Regions from separate parts of the Homo sapiens genome. Here region 2 is linked to region 1. The links come from fine-mapping of genetic effects on gene expression. A gene starts in region 1. The other region holds a variant in brackets. All regions are shown on one strand. Distances are between the middles of the regions.

What was found. PIP is the estimated chance that this variant, and not a neighbour inherited with it, causes the effect.
Region 2: its variant is the best candidate, but not a certain one, in a credible set for the expression of TTC9B in cerebellum (GTEx, PIP 0.81).

The regions. Positions count from the first base shown.
Region 1 is chr19:40,215,170-40,220,535 of GRCh38, forward strand. It overlaps TTC9B (tetratricopeptide repeat domain 9B), which reads right to left and starts at 3,215. Exons shown (of 3, transcript NM_152479.6): 1 at 2,786-3,215; 2 at 2,018-2,200; 3 at 889-1,103. The coding sequence starts at 3,212. The coding sequence ends at 994. It overlaps MAP3K10 (mitogen-activated protein kinase kinase kinase 10), which reads left to right. Exons shown (of 10, transcript NM_002446.4): 10 at 1-406. The coding sequence ends at 123. RefSeq lists enhancers at 2,083-2,673, 4,252-5,366.
Region 2 is chr19:40,194,044-40,199,409 of GRCh38, forward strand. It overlaps MAP3K10 (mitogen-activated protein kinase kinase kinase 10), which reads left to right. Exons shown (of 10, transcript NM_002446.4): 2 at 4,332-4,512. Among named protein-coding and RNA genes, the nearest start is that of MAP3K10, 5.3 kb to the left of the region's middle. The variant A/G (reference allele first, on the strand shown) is at 2,588.

The sequences.
Region 1 (5,366 bases):
AGGCCAGACACTCCGGAGAGCCCTGGGCCCCCCAGCGTGCAGCCCACACTGCTGGACATGGACATGGAGGGGCAGAACCAAGACAGCACAGTGCCCCTGTGCGGGGCCCACGGCTCCCACTAAGGCCTGCCCACCACCGCCCGCCTGGGCAGCCATGAATGTAGCGCCCCAGGCCCTGCCCCAGCCCGCCATGCCACAAGGTGGGGGAGGCCCTGGGCAGGATGTTCACTCTATTTATTGGGGAAGGAGGGAGGGGGGGGACACTTAACTTATTCCTTTGTACCCCAGGGGGTGGAGCCCTGTGCCCACCCTGCACTGGGGGGAGGGTGGGCAGGGATACTCAGGGACAGGGCATCATGGGGGATTTGGCACAAAATGGAGCATTAAAGGTAACCCCTGCCCCCTACCGCACTTGATTGTGTTCCTTTTTCCTTTTTTTTTTTTTTTTTTTTTTGGAGACAGAGTCTTGCTCTGTTGCCCAGGCTGGAGTGCAGTGGCACCATCTCAGCTCACTGCAACCTCCGCCTCCTGGGTTCAAGTGATTCTTCTGCCTCAGCCTCATGAGTAGCTGGGACTACAGGCTCCCGCCACCACACCCAGATAATTTTTGTATTTTTGGTAGAGACAGGGTTTCACCATGTCGACCAGGCTGCTCTCAAACTCCTGACCTCAAGTGATCCACCCATCTCGGCCTCCCAAAATGCTGGGATTACAGGCGTGAGCCACTGCGCCTGGCCTAGACTGTTTCTTTCCCTGGCCCAGGCCCTGATGCTGGGTCATCCCAGTGGAACATTCCCCCCGACCCCACACACCCTCCCTGGGCTTCTCTGGGTTTCTAAGGTCCAAGGGATGAGGCCCTCCCTGGTCCCCCCAAGAACACCACACAAGTTATGATCACCAGTGACAAGTGTTTTACCAACAAACACATGAGTCGGGGGAAGTTACATGGTGAGGTGGGAGGGCGAGGGATAGAGAGGTCCCCCTGGATTGGCCTCAGCCAATTACATCCCGAGTCTGGGACCCAGCCCCACTGTCTTCCCGCTGGAGGCTGCAACGATTCATCTTCAGCTGAGTCAGCTGGATGTAGCGGAGCACATTGGTGTCTGCAGGGGAGGTGGGCAGGGCATCATCTGGGTGTCCCGGGGCAGCAGGTGACTTCCACACCTCCCTGGCTCACACCCCATTCTCCGAAGTATCCAGCAGCTCGCTCACACAGCCAGTAGAGCCAGAGCCCTTCCCCAAAGCCCCAGTCACAGTCGGCAGTCCCCAGTCACAGCGGAGCCATCGCACACCTCTGTGCGCCTGTATTTGCGGCACCCTCTGCCAGGAATGCCTCTTCGCAGAGGCTCCCGTCACACTTCTCATCCTCCAGCGACATCTGCAAGAAGTCTGTTCTCTCCGAGCCACTTAACAGGAAAACTAATCTCGTCTCGGCTCCCACAACCCTGCACCTGTTGTAATCCCTCTTCCTTCTTCATTGGCTCTTAATACAAAACTGAGTGTTGTGTCTGCCCTCCTGCACTCATGTGTGTAAGTGCACACATGCACGCACACACACACACACCCCAATTTCCTGGCATCGTCCACCCGAGTGGATGAGTGGATGGTGCAGGAAGTGAATGAATAGGTGTGCGTGAATGGGTGAGTGGAGGAATGAGTGTGTGCGGTAGGCAGGGGTGGGACGGGGTAATGGAGATGACAGTGGGTGGATAGGGAAGTGACTGAGCAGGTGAATAGGAGATATCAGATGTGGCAATGACGGTAGATGAGAAATGGCCGGGGAGATGTCAGAGGAGCGATAGGTGGACGGATGTTTGAATGGCGGGTGAAGGGCGGGGTGGATGAATGGATGAGTGGGCGTGTAGGGAGTAGGTGGGTGGCGCAGCCCTACCTAGAAGCAGCTCCGCGGGAGGAGGGCTCTGCTATTCTGCCCTGATCTTCCTGCCTGTTCCCTCCGCTGCAGCCCCTTTCCCCGCCCTGGGCCCAGCCCTCACCTCTGCCCCGCCCCGCCACTCACCTGTGGGTTCCCGGCTGCGGGCCTCCTGCAGGTAGCGCAGCGCGCGTGCGTAGTCGCCCAGGTGGTAGAAGGCAATGCCGGCACGGTAGGTGGCCTTGAAGTTGCCCTGCTGCTTCTCCAGTACCTTGAGACAGTACTCGCGCACGCGCTCGTAGTTTACCAGCTCCGACTGCAGCAGGCAAGCTGCGAGGGCCCCGCGGCCGGCACTCTCAGAGCCTGCTGGCACCCCCAGAACCCACCTGACTGCGAGGAGCCGAGGCTCCAGGCGGCAGGGAACCAGGCCTAAGGGATTGCTCCGGCAACCAGGGGCGCCAATCCGCTCGCCTATCGAAACAGGCGCAACTGCGCCGCTGCTAGGGGGCGCCAAAACACGGACAGGCGCCACTGGGCGATCCACCCAGAGCTGTCGGTGGGCAAGAGCACTAAGGCCCCGCGCGGGGGCGAGGGCCGGGACCTCGAGAGCCTGGCTCAGGGCAGACTTCCTCACCTTGGGTCCACGTGCGGCCAGGGGGTGGAAAGAATGACTCAGGGGAAGCGAGGCCCTGAATACCCGACCCAAAGACCATTTCCTGCATCCCAGCTCCCTCCAGCCACAGACCCCTGTCATCCCCTACCCCTAATCCCTTTCCTTGATCAAGCTCTGAAGGCTCCCCCAGAAGCCCACAGCCCTGGACCCTTCAGCCCCAGGGCCCCTGGCCCCCAAGTCGCCAAGCTCTCCCGATTGCCCCCTCCCCTCGTGCCCCATCCCCCCACCCCCCGACGGCGTACCCGTGAGGGAGTCGTAACACTCCACCTCCGTGCTCTCCACCAGGCGCCGCTGCTCCTCGCTGAGGCGCGCCGGCCCGGGGCTGCTGGTGGGCCCGGGGGCGGGGGCGGGCAGGCCGCTAGGGCGGGCCCCCTGCGCCGCCTTCAGCTGCAGCAGCGCTCGGTGGTACTTGCCGATGGCCTCCCGGAACTTCTTCTCTCGATAGCAGCGCTGGCCCTCTGCCTTGAACGCCACGGCGGCACGCAGGCTGCTGTCGAGCGCCGCGCCCAGGCTCCCCGACGGCTCTGGGGTAGGACCGGGACGAGCCGAGCCATGGCGGGAGCCCGAGCCTGGGCCCGAGCCCGGTGGGGAGAGGGCGGGAGGCGGGCGCGGCGGAGGCTCCGGGGCAGCGCTGAGCATCAGCACCGGGGACAGCGCGCCGCGCTGCATTGTGGGAAACTCCTGCCGCCGCCGCTGCAGCTACCGCATCGCCCCCCGCGGGGCTGGTCCCCACCCTTTCTCCGCCCCCTCACCTCCGGCAGCCGACTCCGGCTGCCCCCTATGGGTCTAGGGAAACCCCTCGAGACTTCCCCCATGCTCACTCTCAAATTAACCAAGTCCTAGTTCTCCAGCCCGCCCCCCGAATTGTTCCCATTCCCCTTACCCTCCCCAACCTCCTGCCTGCTCTCCTCCCCGGTGCCCAAAGCTCCCGAAGATTTCTAGAAGGAAAGGACGAGCCTGGGGGAAAGAGCAGGAAGACATCAGCCTCACGGAAAGCTGGCTCTCAGCCCACTGGCCATTTGGCATATCGAATGAGAACACAGGATTTGGACCCAAGCTTCCCAAATTCAAATCCCTGCTTACTTTCTCACTAGTGGTATGACTTAGACAGCTCGCTTAAACTACCTGGAACTCTGTATCCTCATCAGTAACATGGCACAATAATATCACCTTTAGGGCCAGTCGAGGTGGCTCACGCCTGTAATCCCAGCACTTTGGGAGGTCGAGGTGGATGGATCGCTTGAGGTCAGAAGTTTGAGACCAGCCTGGCCAATATGGCAAAACTCCGTCTCTACTAATATACAATATATACAAAATTTTTGTATATATACACAAAAATTAGCCTGGTGTGGTGGCGTGCACCTGTAGTCCCAGCTACTCGGGAGACTGAGGCAGGAGAATCACTTGAACCTGGGAGGCAGAGGTTGCAGTGAGCCGAGATTGTGCCACTGCACTCCAGCCTGGGTGACAGAGGGAGATGCCGTCTCAAAAAAGGAAAGGAAAGGAAAGGAAAGGAAAGGAAAGGAAAGGAAAGGAAAGGAAAGGAAAGGAAAGGAAAGGGGAAAGGGGAAAGAGGAAAGAGAAAAAAGGAAAGGAAAGGAATTAAAAATAATACCACCTTTGGGATTCATCTGTTAATTTATGAAACAAATATTCACTGACATCCTTTCTGTGCCCAGCTCTGTGCTGGATGATGCTGGGACATAGCAGACACTGCGTGAGCTTCAGACCCTACTCTCACTGGGCCCCAGTTCAGTGGGAAGACAGACCAGTGACCAGACAGTGACAGCCCTGAGCAGGCTAGCCTGGGAAGCACAGGCAGAGGGGTCGGGGCCGAGGTGGAAGAGGCACAGGCAGAGGGGTCGGGGCTGGGATGTGGGAGGTACCTGCCCTGGGCTGAGGTGGTGATAAAGTCTTCCTGGAGGAGGGAATAACTCTAAAAACAAGAGAGATCTCCTTCTTGCCCTCATCCAGCTCGGCTGTCTATGGGGGAAAACAAGTGAGAGGGCAAACAAGTCCCCAGGAAAGGAAGCATGCAGGAGGCTTTCAAGAAAAAAATCGAGGATGAATGAGTCAACTGCCCTTCAGTCCTCCTTTGCCGCCTCCTTAGCTGTGGGACCTGGGCCAAGTTCCTCGATCCTCCTCCTTCGGCTTCGTCTGTGCGACATGAGGATAGAAGGCAAGTTAACCTCAGAGCGGTTGCAGAGACTGAATTATCTTATGCAGGTAAGGCACTTAGCACAGGGCTTCATACATTAATGGGCAATTAACAACTGGTGTTTCTTATCGTCCATTAGACTCTGAGTCATGTGATCATGAGTGCCTGGCTCTGAGTCAGCATCCATATATAGTTGTTGAATGAATGAGTGTGTGAGTGAATGGCATTATGCATTACTACTCCTCCCCCTCCTCTGAGACTCTAGCTTGGGTCTCAGCCCCAGGCCTCCCCACTCTCCCCAACTCCACCCCCACAGCACATCCTCTAGCTGGAGGTCCCATGGCAGGTCACATGTGACAGACAGAAACCAGAACTCAGCACCTTCCATCTCAACCAGAGCATCTGCCTCTATCTCTTATTGTACTTTGCTGTAAAACGCTTTTGCTGAGTGAGTTTCTCCCTTATCCCTGGGGTCCAGCCTTGAACACCTCAGGGGTGCAAACATTTTCCTCTCTGCATCTCCAAACCCAGGCTCAGTTAGGAGTGTAAAACTCATGAATTTGAGTTCTTGAGCAGTGCACACACCTTTCCCTACCTCCGGTGTGTCTGTTTTGTAATGAAAAACACAGAGATCTGGCTGGGCGCAGTGACTCACACCTGTAATC
Region 2 (5,366 bases), 21 kb before region 1:
CCCAAGCCTGACATTTGTATATCAACAGAGAGCTTGGCTGGGCGCGGTGGCTCACGCCTGTAATCCCAGCACTTTGGGAGGCCGACGTGGGTGCATCACCCGAGGTCAGGAGTTCGAGACCAGCCTGACCAATATGGTGAAACCCCTTCTCTACTAAAAATACAAAAATTAGCTGGGCATGGTGGCATGCATCTGTAATCCCAGCTACTCAGGCTGAGGCAGAAGAATCGCTTGAAACCAGGAGGTGGAGGTTGCAGTGAGCCGAGATTGCACCACTGCACTCCAGCCTGGGTGACAGAGCAAGATTCCATCGCAAAAAAAAAAAGCTAACATGTGACCACGATGTGCCAGAGCTGGTGCTGTGTCTGGGGAACTGATGCTTATGCCCCAGCACCTCTGAAATGTTGGGTAAATGGAGGCAGGGCCACCCAGCATGCTCCTGTTGAAGGCTGGGACTCCTCAGCCCTTCCTCACCTCTGCTGATTGACAGCACGCCCCACACCCCCAGGTTTTTTGTAGCCAGTGCTATCTGGTCAAAGGGTCAGTGGGCCTCTTATGGCCAGGGCTTCCTCCCGGGGTGATGGGTCTGCTCTGTGCCAGAAACAGAGGACACAGCGCCTCCACAGCACTGCTTCCCCACTCATCCTACCCTAAGGAGCGCCTCATCTGCCATCATTCATTCATTGGTTCATTCCACCAGTAATTCTTAAGTGCCTACTCTTACTAGGCACTGCCTCAGCTCTGGGATTACAGAAGTGAACAAGGCAAGATTTCTCCCTCCCCCAGCTATGGAATTTATATTCCGGTGAACAGGAATAAATGATGGATAGATGGATACCAAAATTTCAGAGAGTATCAGGGGCTCTCAGTGGACTAAGGCAAAGGCTGGAGCAGAGGGTTCTCTTTATTTAGATCGGGTGGTCAGGGAAGGCAACATTTGAGCAGAGACCTGAACAAAGGGGACCCAGCTTTACAAAGATCTGGGGAAGGGGAACAGTGGGGCACATGCCCTGAGGTGGGAGTGAGTGTGTCTCACTGGAGAACAGCAAGACCAGAACAGCAGGCATTGAGGCAGAGATGGGAGGAAGTAGGATCAGAAAGGCTGGCAGGAGCCAGATCACATAGGACCTTGGGGGCCATGGTGAGGACTTGGGGTATTTTATTTGATGTAGTGGAAGCCATTAGAGGATTTGAAGCAGGGAGTGACATGATTACATAAAGATTTTGAAGGGGGACTGACTTAGGCCCAGCCTGGGAAATACAGAAATAAAGCATAAAACCATGAGATGTTCCCTCTGTCACAGGGTTTCGATACAAACAGGAGAGGTGGGGACCTAAGAAGGGAAAACTTCTGCAGAGGTGGAGTTACAGACTAGGAATTTACAGTGGGGGCTTCCAGGAGGAGGTAACACTGAAGCCCGCCCGGCCTTTTTTTTTTTTTTTTTTTTTTTTTTTTTTTTTTTTTGAGACAGAGTCATCTCACTCTGTGACCCAGGCTGGAGTGCAGTAGTGTGATCACAGCTCACTGAACCTTCCGCCTCCCGGGTTCAAGTGATCCTTCCACCTCAACTTTCCAAGTAGGCAGGGCTACAGGCGTGCGCCACCAAGCCTGGCTAATTTTTGTATTTCTAGTAGAGACGGTGGTCTTGCCATGTTGGCCAGGCTGGTCTTGAACTCCTGACCTCAGGTGATCCGCCTGCCTTAGCCTCCCAAAGTGCTAGGATTACAGGCATGAGCCACCGCGTCCAATCTGAAGCTGGGCTTTAAAGGATGGGCAGGATTATCAATTGTGTGACCCTGGGTGATTTGCCAATCTCTGCCACCTTCAGTTCCTTCATCTGCCAAATGGGCATGATAGTAGAACTACCTTACTATTATTATTATGACTGGGAAGTAGCCAGGAATGGCAAAAAGAAAAGTGGAGAAATTCGGAACAATTATGGCAATATCACACACTAATAATAACAGCTAACACTTTTAAAGGCCCTATTGCTTCAGGCAATAAATTTTTACTATAACGCTAGAAGGTAAATTCTGTTACGAGCCCCATTTCATAGAGGAGAAGTCTCGGTGTGAAGATTAAAGTAAACTGTACAGGGTTATGCACCTAGGAAGAAGCAGGGCTGAGACTCAAACCCAGGCAGCACACTGTATACTTTGGAGCCTCTATGTGATAGAAGGTAGTAAAATATCTCAGCAGTTAAGAGATTGAGCTCTGATGACAAAACTAATTCAAGCCTTTGTCCTGCCATTTTCTAACCATGTGACCTCTTGGCCAAGTGACTTCTGAGCCTCTGTTAGCTAGTCAAGAAAAATGGGTTGTGGCTGGGTGCAGTGGTTTACTCTTGTAGTCCCAGCAATTTGGGAGTCCAAGGCTGGAGGATTGTTTAAGCCCAGAAGTTTGAAGCTACAGCAAGCCATAATCACACCACTGCACTCCAGTCTGAGTGACAGAAAAAGACCCTGTCTCTTTATTTATTTATTTATTTCATTGAGATGGAGTCTCGCTCTGTCATCCAGGTTGAAGTGCAGTGGCACGATCTCGGCTCACTGCAACCTCTGCCTCCTGGGTTCAAGTGATCCTCTC[A/G]CCAAAGCCTCTCAAATAGCTGGGACTCCAGGCACCCGCCACCACACCCAGCTAATTTTTGTATTTTTAGTAGAGACAGGGTTTCACTATGTTGGCCAGGCTGGTCTCGGTCTCCTGACCTCAAGTGATCCACCTACCTTGGCCTCCCAAAGTGCTGGGATTACAGGCATGAGCCACTGCTCCTGGCCAACCCTGTCTCTTTAAAAAAATAAAAAAGGGCTCGGGGTGGGGGTCATTCATGAGTCAATTCCTATAGAGAGCTTAGCACAGTACAAACACTAGCCATGATCCTCATGGCTGTTAGTGACAACCCGGGTAGAAAGTAAGCTAGAACCATCCAGTATGTTTAGGGAATACTTCAGTCAGATTTTGTCACGATCATGCTGTGTAATAAGCTACCCCCAAAACTCGGCATCTTAAAACAGCCATTGTGTATTACTGCTCCTGCATTTGCGGACCAGCTGGAGGGTAAACTGATGGAGGCTGGGCTCAGCTGGAGAGGCTTTGCTCCAAGTAGCTCTCATCTTCTTGGACAAGCAGGCTAGCTGAGGCATGTTGTCATGGTGATGACACAAGTGCAAGAGGGCCAGCAGACATGCAAGGCCTGGGCTTGGAATTGGCACCCTGTCATTCTTAGCCAAAGCAAGTCATACGGCTGAGCCAGAGTCAGGGTGCACTCTGCCTTTGTTTTTGTTTTTGTTTTTGTTTTCTCGGAGACAGAGTCTCGCTCTGTCACCCAGGCTGGAGTTCAATGGCGCAATCTCAGCTCACTGCCACCTCCACCTCCCAGGTTCAAGTGATTCTCATGCCTCAGCCTTCCAAGTAGCTGGGATTACAGGTGAGCACCATGATGCTCGGCTAATTTTTGTATTTTTAGTAGAGATGAGGTTTCACCATGTTGGCCAGGCTGGTCTCGAACTCCTGACCTCAAGTGATCCGCCTGCCTTAGCCTCCCAAAGTGCTGGGATTACAGGTGTGAGCCACCGTGCCTGGCCATACTCTGCCTCTTTAGCAGAAAGAATGGCAAAGTCTCATGGCAGAGTGTGGACACAGGAAGGGGTAGAATTGGGACCCTGACTGCAGTGTGCCACGGGGGTGATAGACACGAGGGGGAAGCCACGTTCCTCCCTTCTGCCCCAGGTTTGCACTTCCTGCTTCCAGGGTAGCTGGGAACTCAAGGCCTGGAGGACTAAGGCCTTGGCTGTTGTTTCTTTTTTTTGAGACGAGGTCTCACTCTATTGCCCAGGCTGGAGTGCAATGGCAAGACCATGGCTCACTGCAGCCTCAACCTCCCAGCCTCAAGTGATCCTCCCAACTTAGCCTCCCAAGTGGCTGGGACTGTAGGCATGCACCACCACACCCAGGTATTTTTAAAAAGTTTTTGTAGAGATGAGGTCTTGCCATGTTGCACAGGCTGGTCTCGAACTCCTGGGCTCAAGTGACCCGCTTCAGCCTTGGCTGTTGGTTCTTGACCATTCATGGAGCTCCCCAAAGCCCAGGACAGAATCAGGAGGGCAGAGGACACAGGAGGAGCTCCCTACTCCCTCATGGGAGCCTGGGACAGGGATTAGACCTGGGCGGAGGGGCTCATGGATGTTCCAGGCCAGGAAAGGACCTGCCACAGAGCGGGGCAGCCTGAGGCAGTGAGAGGAAAGACGTGTTTCTAGCTGAGGCAGCGGGCCAGAACACTTGGGTCTGCGGCGTGGCAGGTCTGGGGTGACCCACCTTTCTTCCCACCCCACAGTCCTGATCCTGGAGGCCATCGAGAACCACAACCTCGCAGACACGGTGCTCAAGATCACGGACTTCGGCCTCGCCCGCGAGTGGCACAAGACCACCAAGATGAGCGCTGCGGGGACCTACGCCTGGATGGCGCCGGAGGTTATCCGTCTCTCCCTCTTCTCCAAAAGCAGTGATGTCTGGAGGTGCTGAAAGGCGCGGCCGGGATGGCCTCTGGGGAGTAAGGGAGGGAGGAAGGGGTGAGGGCAGAGTGGGAGGGAGGGTCTCCTGCTGAAGCCAGGATCTCAGTCTGACAAAGGGACCTGCTGGCAAGGTCAGGCCACCAGACAAGTGCCAGTTACCTGTTCAGCTAGCACAAATGGCAACTAGGGGGCACACTGGATTAGAATAAAAAGCTCATAGGATCTAGAGACAAGGCCGGGCGCGGGGGCGCACACCTGTAATCCCAGCACTTTGGGAGGCCGAGGTGGGCGGATCACTTGAGGTCAGGAGTTTGAGACCAGCCTGACCAACATGGTGAAACCCCATCTCTACTAAAAATACTAAAATTACCTGGGCGTGGTGGCAGATGCCTGTTGTCCCAGCTACTCGGGAGACTGAGGCAGGAGAATCACTTGAGGCCGGGAGGCAGAGATTGCAGTGGGCTGGGATTGGCCACTGCACTCCAGCCTGGGTGACAGAGCGAGACTCTGTCTCCAAAAAAAGAAAAAATTTAAAAAAGCATAGAGACAGCACATGGATGCTAGCACTGAAAGCCCCCTCAGACACTAGCCCATGCACTGTCCCATCTGTCAGACAGGAAAATGATTAATTCACTCATTCATTCCTTCATCTAACTGCACCGGGTTCTAGGGATATAGCAGAGAAGAAAAATACATGCAATCCCTGCCCTCAGGAATAGTAAGTCAGTCAACATACAAGAAGCTCTTTTTTATAAAGCTGTTTTTTAAGAAAATTATAATTTTTAAAGACAAGTACACCAGAAAAAAGTGTTAGTACAAAGTGCGAGGAGGCTGAGAGGAAGGCACTTTAAGGGCTG